Homo sapiens: one gene and its partner. The protein of the gene in region 1 interacts with the protein of each later gene in a pairwise test. Each region holds a gene or a part of one and is shown on either strand. Other genes may lie near its edges.

Region 1 (3,816 bases):
ACTTGCAGTTTCTACCTTAGACATTTGCACACCTGAGTCCCCATGTAAGAAACAAGACTACTCTTCTGGGAACACCACATGGAGACATCTGAGACTATCTAGGGGGAGGAGCCCAGCTGAGCCCGGCCTTCCAGTCATTCTACTGAAGTTCCAAGCATAGGCACAAAGCCATCATCAATCCTCCAGACCAGCCCAACTGTCATCTAAATGCTACCAAGTGACCCCAGCCAAAGCCACATGGAGCAAGACAATATCCAGCCAAGCTCTGATGAAATTTCTGACCCACAAAAACTTGTGAAGTATAACAAAATGATTATTATTTGAGGCCACAACATTTTGAAGCTTGTTGTGCAGCAAATAGATAACCCAGACAGTGGTATGAATCATACTATTCTGGAGGTGGTAAGGTTTTAAATGAGAAATGACTATTGAAAGGGTGTGAGTTGGTGAGAAGAAACTAGAAATACTGGAGAGCTCCAAGTCCTCTGAGGTTAGCAAATTTAAATATAAGTATTCTTTGGTGGTCCCAAAGGATTGTTTAGGGCCATGAAGTTATGGGTACCCTTAGATATGTCATTAAGTTCCCCAAGCATTTCTTCATGTGTAAAATGGGGATTTATCCAACTCCAAGACAGCAGGTGTTCTTGCCCATATAGAAGATGTTCAACTTGAAGAGAATTCTCCTTCCTATTTTCTTTCCCTCTACCTCATACTTCTGGTCATGATTTTAATCATACATACAGGGGAAACTTAATCAAAGAAAGGTGTGTTCAAATTTACAAATGGGCTGAGAGCTATAACAACTATCATGGGTTTGAATGCATTCCTAGAGCACTGGAGTTTTGTCTGAACATATCGCAATAAAGGCTGCCTTTGGCATAAAGCTTTAAAAATATGGCAAAGATCGTTACTATCTAAAAACAGTTGTTTTTCATCTTTGTTTTCTCCTCTTTCCCTTCATCTTTCAGACACTTTATCCCTCTCATATTCCCTCCATTATTGGTATACATGGGAAGCCTATCTTGATCACACCAGTAGATGCTATTTAGAGTTTGTTAACGTGAAAGAGGTTAGAGAAAGCAGGAAAGAAAGATTTTATTTTCCTATCATTCATTAATATTCTGACACACTGTTCTGTAGAGAGGGGAGGGTAATGAAAATCGTAAGTTCACAAGCTTTCAGGTTTAAACAAGCTCAGAGTGACTTCAACAGAAGCATGGGTTTCCTAACTATCCCAGGTGGAGAGAAACAATAGACCTTCGCAGCTCTGGACAAGACAAACCCTGAACTCATGTATAGAATTGTTATCCTACGTCCATCCAGCCTCATATTGTGACTCTAAAAAGAATACCTGGCGGCATTTTTATGAGACAGAATGACTCAAAACTCTTGGGCTATATTTTAAATCTGCGAATTCCAATTGGAAGATCCAAATCTGAACAATCACACATGTGAGTCACCAGGAGAGCTCTTTGAAACCAACATCTGTGCCGAGGCAACTCTCATTTTCCTTTCCAGGGAAAATCAGAATCCCCTTGAAGGAAACTGTGGTTAGTCTTCGTAAAAGCTCCCCCAGGGATTCCAAACCTGGTGGAGTGCCTATGCTCACATGTAAGTTCACAGGCACGTGTGCACACATGTACACACATACATACTCTCCTCCTACTGAACATCAGTGTCCTGAAGAGTCCTAATAAATAATCCAAACAACCATGTAAACGACCTGAGAACCTTTTCATAGTCACCCTGTTTTCCTCTAGGGATTAGGATGCCAATTGTGTGTCAAGTAGTACAGTAATCAAAGGGTATCCAAGAACTTCAAAGGTTTTGTTCTTCTGAAGAGCTGAGCTTTCCAAATAGCTGAAGATCTGCCCATTTAAGCATCAAATCTGTTTTTTTTTTCCAAAATAATATTTCAGCAATTTTGGATGTGAAACTCTGTAAAATTTATTGCATGTGTTCAGTTTCCTGACTATAATTTAGCCTCATCTTCATAATTCAAGGTTATTACCATCGGCATCAATTCCTGTAATAGGACTAGAGATGGGAGTTTATTACCAAAGACTACAAAGACCTCCAAATGGCAGCCGGAGACAAAAGGAAAGTTGGAGAACACCATACTAAAAATAGGACTCCAAATAAAGAGGCCAGAAGCAAAAGTCAGAAGCCAGACAGGAAGCCAAAGAGATAAAGAGTGGGTTAACTATAAACAGGGTAAGATTCAGAAAACTTGTCCACAACAGGCATTGCTTCTGTGGTCTGATTATCTGAGATAGCGTTACTGTGATACAGTGGTAAAAATCTTTAGTCTAAAGCAGAAGTCCCCAACCTGGACGGTACAGGTCCATGGCCCATCAGGAGCCGGGCCGCACAGCAGGAGGTGAGCAGCAGGCAAGCAAGCAAAGCTTCATCTGTGTTTACAGCCACTCCCCATTGCTTGCAGTACTGCCTGAGCTCCACCTCCTGTCAGATTAGCGGCGGCATTAGATTCTCAAAGGAGCAAGAACCCTATTGTGAACTGCACGTGCTAGGGATCTAGGTTGCACGCTCCTTATGATAATCAAATGCCTGATGATCGGACACTGTCTCCCATCACTGCCAGATGGGACCATATATAGTTGCAGGAAAACAAGCTCAGCGCTCCCACTGATTCTATATTATGGTGAGTTGTATAATTATTTCATTATATATTACAATGAAATAAAGTGCACAATAAAAGTAATGCTCTGTGGAAAAATTGTATTCCACAAAACTGGTCCCTGGTGCCAAAAAGGCTGGGGACTGCTGGTCTAAAGGACCTGCTGTTGATGTCACGGTGTCCTCCTCTAGCCCTCCTCTTTTAATTCAGTGCTTCTAATTTCTTCTGGCCCTACAGATAGTCAAACTAGTTGAAGCAATAAAAGACAAGAGGCTGCCTTTCTGATCCATCAAAAGTGTGTGTGAGTTGTCTTCTCTTCGGGTGTTCAAGGATCTCTTTGACTTGCTCTCTGGACCTTGTCTGTGCTTCAGGAGTTGTATAGCTGAGCCCCAGAAAGATAAAAAAATTGCTATTATTTTATATTTTTCTGCTAGAATCTTCTTCTTCCAGATGCCCGTGTATAGTGACAGTGAACGTGCCCATGCTTCTCCAAACTAAAAGCTTCCATCTTGGGCCGTTCCTCTTTCAAGCGTGGGACTCTAAGCCATGCACATCATGTCACTTGCGTCATGGAGCAGCCGGTGCTTCAGAAACCTCTGAGGCACATCTACCAAGAACTCACTAAGGTCCTCTAAGTTGCCAGCCTCAAGAGAAACACCCTTTCCTGGAGATGGGATGGGCCCTGGGAGGAAAAAAGCCATTGGCAAGCCTGCTGGCAGAGGCTACTCCTCAGAGGACAGGGTCAAGGGGCCACAGAAAAATAGGGACTTAGCAGCTTCCATTACAGGTAACAGGACCTAGGTGACCCTGCCTCCAATTTACTGAAGCCATGTAACTAAAGTAGGGCCAAAGAGAGCAACCTATGATGCTATCGTCAGCAAAGAAGGAAATTTAAGGGTGATTTAATTGGTAAAAAAGAGAAGAAAAAGGAGATATAATCATGTTTTTTGTTTGTTTGTTTAAATCATCTTGTAATTTATCTGGCTACCCTTAATCTGGCTTTTTTTCATAGGAACCAGTTTTTGCTTCCCCTCCAAATATTACTTCATCCTCTAGCCTAGTTTGTCTTATTATTCTTCTATTCTGGCTGATCCCAAGGGTAAGAGAAAGGGAAAATTTTGCTAGGAATAGCATAGTATGTGGTGAGGGGCAGGAGGGACTTGGGAGTCCGAGGTGGA
Region 2 (4,212 bases), on another chromosome or scaffold:
GCCGGGCGTGGTAGTGCATGCTCGTAATCCCAGCTACTTGGGAGGCTGAGGTGGGAGGATTGCTTGACCCCTGGAGGCAGAGGTTGCAGTGAGCCGAGATCGCGCCACTGTACTTCAGCCTGAGCGACAGAGTGAGACTCGCTCAAAAAAAAAAAAAGAAAAAGAAAGAAAGAAAAAAAAACACAATTGTGGCTTCTTTCTTCGGACACTGGGGGATCCCACAGATCATCCTGACAGCCCCCACTACCTGAGCCTGGGCTGCGGGCCAGTGCGTCATCAGGGAGTCTTCCTGGAGCCCTGGCCTCACTTCCGAGTTCCAGATGTCTCGGAGTCTAGAAACACTGGCTGAGCGGGGGATGCAGGCGGCTCCCCTCCAACGTCACAGGGCTTGGCAGAACGTAGCCACGACGGGCACGCCATGTTCCCCGAAGAAATGCCTTCCTCAGGCCGTTAGTTACCCCTCTGGGGTCTCAGCTGGCAGCCGGTGCTCCACGGTGCTCGGAGTTGGGGCGCTGCTCCAGGCCGGGGGTTGGGCCCAGCGCTCACCGCAGCCAGGGGAGGGTTGGGCCGTTCCACTGAGCGGCAGGGCGGGGAGGAGGGGCAAGGGCGGCCCCTCCTGCAGACGGTGGTTGCTATGGGAACCCTGGGAGGCGCCAAGGGAAAGGGCAGCCCAAGGACGTCCATGGATGCCCTGGCCTGGACGCACAAAGGACACTTGCACAAAACAAACTTTTAACAAACTTTTATTAACAAACCTCGCGTAGAGCCAACTCTAACCCGACTAACAGCAAAAACAGCATTGCTAACAAGATCAAGGATGGAGGTGCAGACCCAATAAAGACCGTCTCTTAAAAAAAGGACTGGGAAAAATATATATATATATATCTGCATGAGTACTTCTTAAAAAACTAAAACTTTCCAGTGTTGCAGGAAAAAATATCCCAAAGTGATTTCAGTCGGTTAAAAAAAACAGTACTTGGCAGTCTGTGCTGCCTTAAAAACCCCAACTGGACATAACCCTAGGAGAAAATCACCCCACCCCATAAAGACAAAATTCCCTTTTCTCCTCTTCCTTGTTCAAATTCCACTGCTTATTCCACCAACACCCAAGGAATAACAAGACCCAGCTTACTTCTCTCGGTCTCTTATCTGATAAAGCTCACAGCAATCTTAACCTCTACTACAATCAGGAAATTGAGCCCTAATTTCTGGGCCAGATTCTGGAAAGTTGCAAAACATCCTTATGCTGCGAGGGGCCTGAGGACTCCTTCAAAGATCAAGGGGGCAGTGGAACTGGCAGAGACTGGCATGCCTGCCCTGCAAGGCTGAGACAAGGGGACCTTTCTAAGCAAAAACACCCCAACATCTGTCACTGAAAGTCTAACCAGGCAAAACCAAGGAGCAGCAGGCGCCAAACTAGGGCTGTGCCTGAAAGGTGCACATCTCCCCTGTTTCACCATAAAGGCAAGGGAGATAAAGAGAGCCAACTGAGTATTTGACCTCATCTGTCTTCTGCATATTTTAGGCCGAAGCCATGTTGCAGAGAAAGACATTTGGTCAAAGGGTAGCCTTTGTTGTTTGTGGTTGGATACAGCTGCCATTCCTGGACAGCCTGGTTCATGGCTGCTTTCTGGAAGCTTTTCCCCCTTATGCAGAGTACTTAAGAATTAATAGGAAAATTTTCAGTGGAACTTCGTAACTGGCAAATACGTTAACAGCAGCTTCTCAAAGGCCACCCCTCAGCTGATGATCACAGCTCCTTCCAGTCAATGGGCTTCTTGCCAGACTTCTGCAGCAGCTCATTGGTCTTTGAAAAGTGTCTACATCCAAAGAACCCTCTATACACTGACAAAGGGGAGGGATGAGCCGTCTGTAGTACATGGTGCCGCTTCTGAAAAAGATCAAGAATAAATGGTGGCAGATTTGGGACTTTTTAAATTTTTTTTTTTTTTTTTTGAGACAGAGTCTTGCTGCAGTGGCGTGATCTCGACTCACTGCAACCTCCGCCTCCCGGGTTCAAGCGATTCTCCTGCCTCAGCTTCCCAAGTAGCTGGGACTACAGGCGCGTGCCACCACACCCAGCTAATTTTTGTATTTTTAGTAGAGATGGGGTTTCATCATATTGGCCAGGATGGTCTCGATCTCTTGACCTCGTGATCCGCTCGCCTTGGCCTCCCCAAAGTGCTGGGATTACAGGCGTGAACCACCATGCCCGGCCGGGACTTTTTTTTTTTTTCCCCAAAAAGGAAGGACTGTGGCTGTTGCACTTTAAGACCCTGTGCGATTCCCCTTTGCCCTCTAAATTCTCCCCCTTCCAAAGTGGAGCATTCAGCATTTGCATTAGAACATTAGTCCGTTTGTTGAGCAACTACCTACCTTTGCTAGGCTCTGAGATGCAAAGAGCACCACCCTCTGCCTTCAAGTTGGCAATTATCTATGCAATTTTCAAGTGTCCCTATCATACTGCCAGCAATTTCCACTGCTAAGACTGTATTTGCTAAAGGACACCATGATGCATACACACACAGATAAACTCCTCAACTTATTAACACAATGGATGGGGTTAACATCTTGGAAAACCCATCCTAAGTAGAAAATATCCTAAGTTGAAGATATATTTATGACATATAACCTGCTGAACATCATAGCTTAACCTACCCTACCTTAAACATGCTCAGAACACCTACATTAGCCTACAGCTGGGCAAAACAAAGCTTCTTTTACAATGAAGTGTTTAGTACCTCATGTAACTCATTGAACACTGTACTGAAAGTGAAAAATAGAACGGGGCCAGTCACGGTGGCTTACACCTGTAATCCCAGTGCTTTGGGAGGCCAAGGTAGGACAACTGCATGGGACCAAGAGTTTACAACCAACTGAGGCAACATAGCGAGACCCCATCTCTACAAAAAAATTAAAAAGTTAGCCAAGTGTGATGGCATGCACCTGCAGTCCTAGCTACACAGAAGACTGAGGTGGCAGGATCACTTGAGCCCAGGAGTTCGAGGCTGCAAAAAGCTATAATTGTGCCACTGCACTCCAGCCTGGGTGACAGAGCAAGATCTTTTTTTTTAATTTTTTATTTTTTGAGATGGGGTCTTACTCTGTCACCCAGGCTAGAGTGTAGTGGCATGACTGTGGCCCACTGTAGCCTCCACCTCCTAGGCTCAAGTTACTCTCCCACCTCAGCCTCCTGAGTACCTGGGACCACAGGTGCGTGCCACTACACCAGGCTAATTTTTTGTGTTTTTTAGAGACAAGGTCTCACTATGTTGCCCAGGCTGTTCTCAAACCCCTGAGCTCAAGTGATCCGCCACCCTGGCCTCTCAAAGTGTTGGGATTACAGGCGTGAGCCACTGCTCCCAGCCAAGAGACCCTGTCTCTTAAAGAAAGAAAAAAAAACAACGTGTGAGTGCTCAAAGTATGGTTATACACCATTGTAAAGTCGAAAAAAATCAGGTCAAACTTCATAAGCCAGGGACCAGTTGTACCTACACAAATAGGTACATATAAAGGGACTGACACACTGCTTATGTCAGCTAAAACCTAGTATACAATTCAGTGTTACAGAACTGGCTAAATGTATTTTTCTAAAGTTCTTACAATGTAAAACCACATAACTCCTAGAAAAACATGCGAAAGATAAATATACTGATGAGATGACCTCCAAAATTTACCAAGTGAACAAAATGCAAAATAATTTCATTTTTTAAAAACTTTAGAAAAATACCCAAGACACTGTATTTAGTAGTTCCTTTAAGAGAAAGAGTGGAAGCCATTTACTTTCCATTTTGTGCCTTTCTGAACTCTCTGAATAGTCTTACAGCTCCTAAGAAGGAAGAATTAAAAAACAAAAACAAAAACAAAAAAATCTCGCCACAAAAATGGAATAGTTGGCCGGGCGTGGTGGCTCACACCTGTAATCCCAGCACTTTGGGAGGCTGAGGTAGGTGGATCACCTGAGGTCAGGAGTTCAAGACCAGCCTGACCAACATGAAGAAACTCCGTCTCTACTAAAAATACAAAATTAGCTGGATGTGGTGGTACATGCCTGTAATCCCAGCTACTCAGGAGGCTGAGGCAGGAGAATCACTTGAACCCAGGAGGGGGAGGCTGCAGTGAACTGAGATCACGCCATTGCACTCCAGCCTGGGCAACAAGAGTGAAACTGTCTCAGAAAAAAAAAAAAAAAAAAAAAAAAGAGGAATAGTC

The links.
Region 2: the proteins of TGFB2 (region 1) and UNG interact in binary tests that used the Homo sapiens proteins (3 or more experiments, as listed by UniProt).

Annotation. Positions count from the first base shown.
Region 1 is NC_000001.11:218,407,752-218,411,567, reverse strand, and holds part of TGFB2 (transforming growth factor beta-2 proprotein isoform 2 preproprotein), read right to left. Parts: intron 1-3,816.
Region 2 is NC_000012.12:109,107,508-109,111,719, reverse strand, and holds the end of UNG (uracil-DNA glycosylase), read right to left. Parts: intron 1,892-4,212; coding exon 1,751-1,891; 3' UTR 728-1,750; downstream 1-727. UniProt on the Homo sapiens protein: Uracil-DNA glycosylase that hydrolyzes the N-glycosidic bond between uracil and deoxyribose in single- and double-stranded DNA (ssDNA and dsDNA) to release a free uracil residue and form an abasic (apurinic/apyrimidinic; AP) site.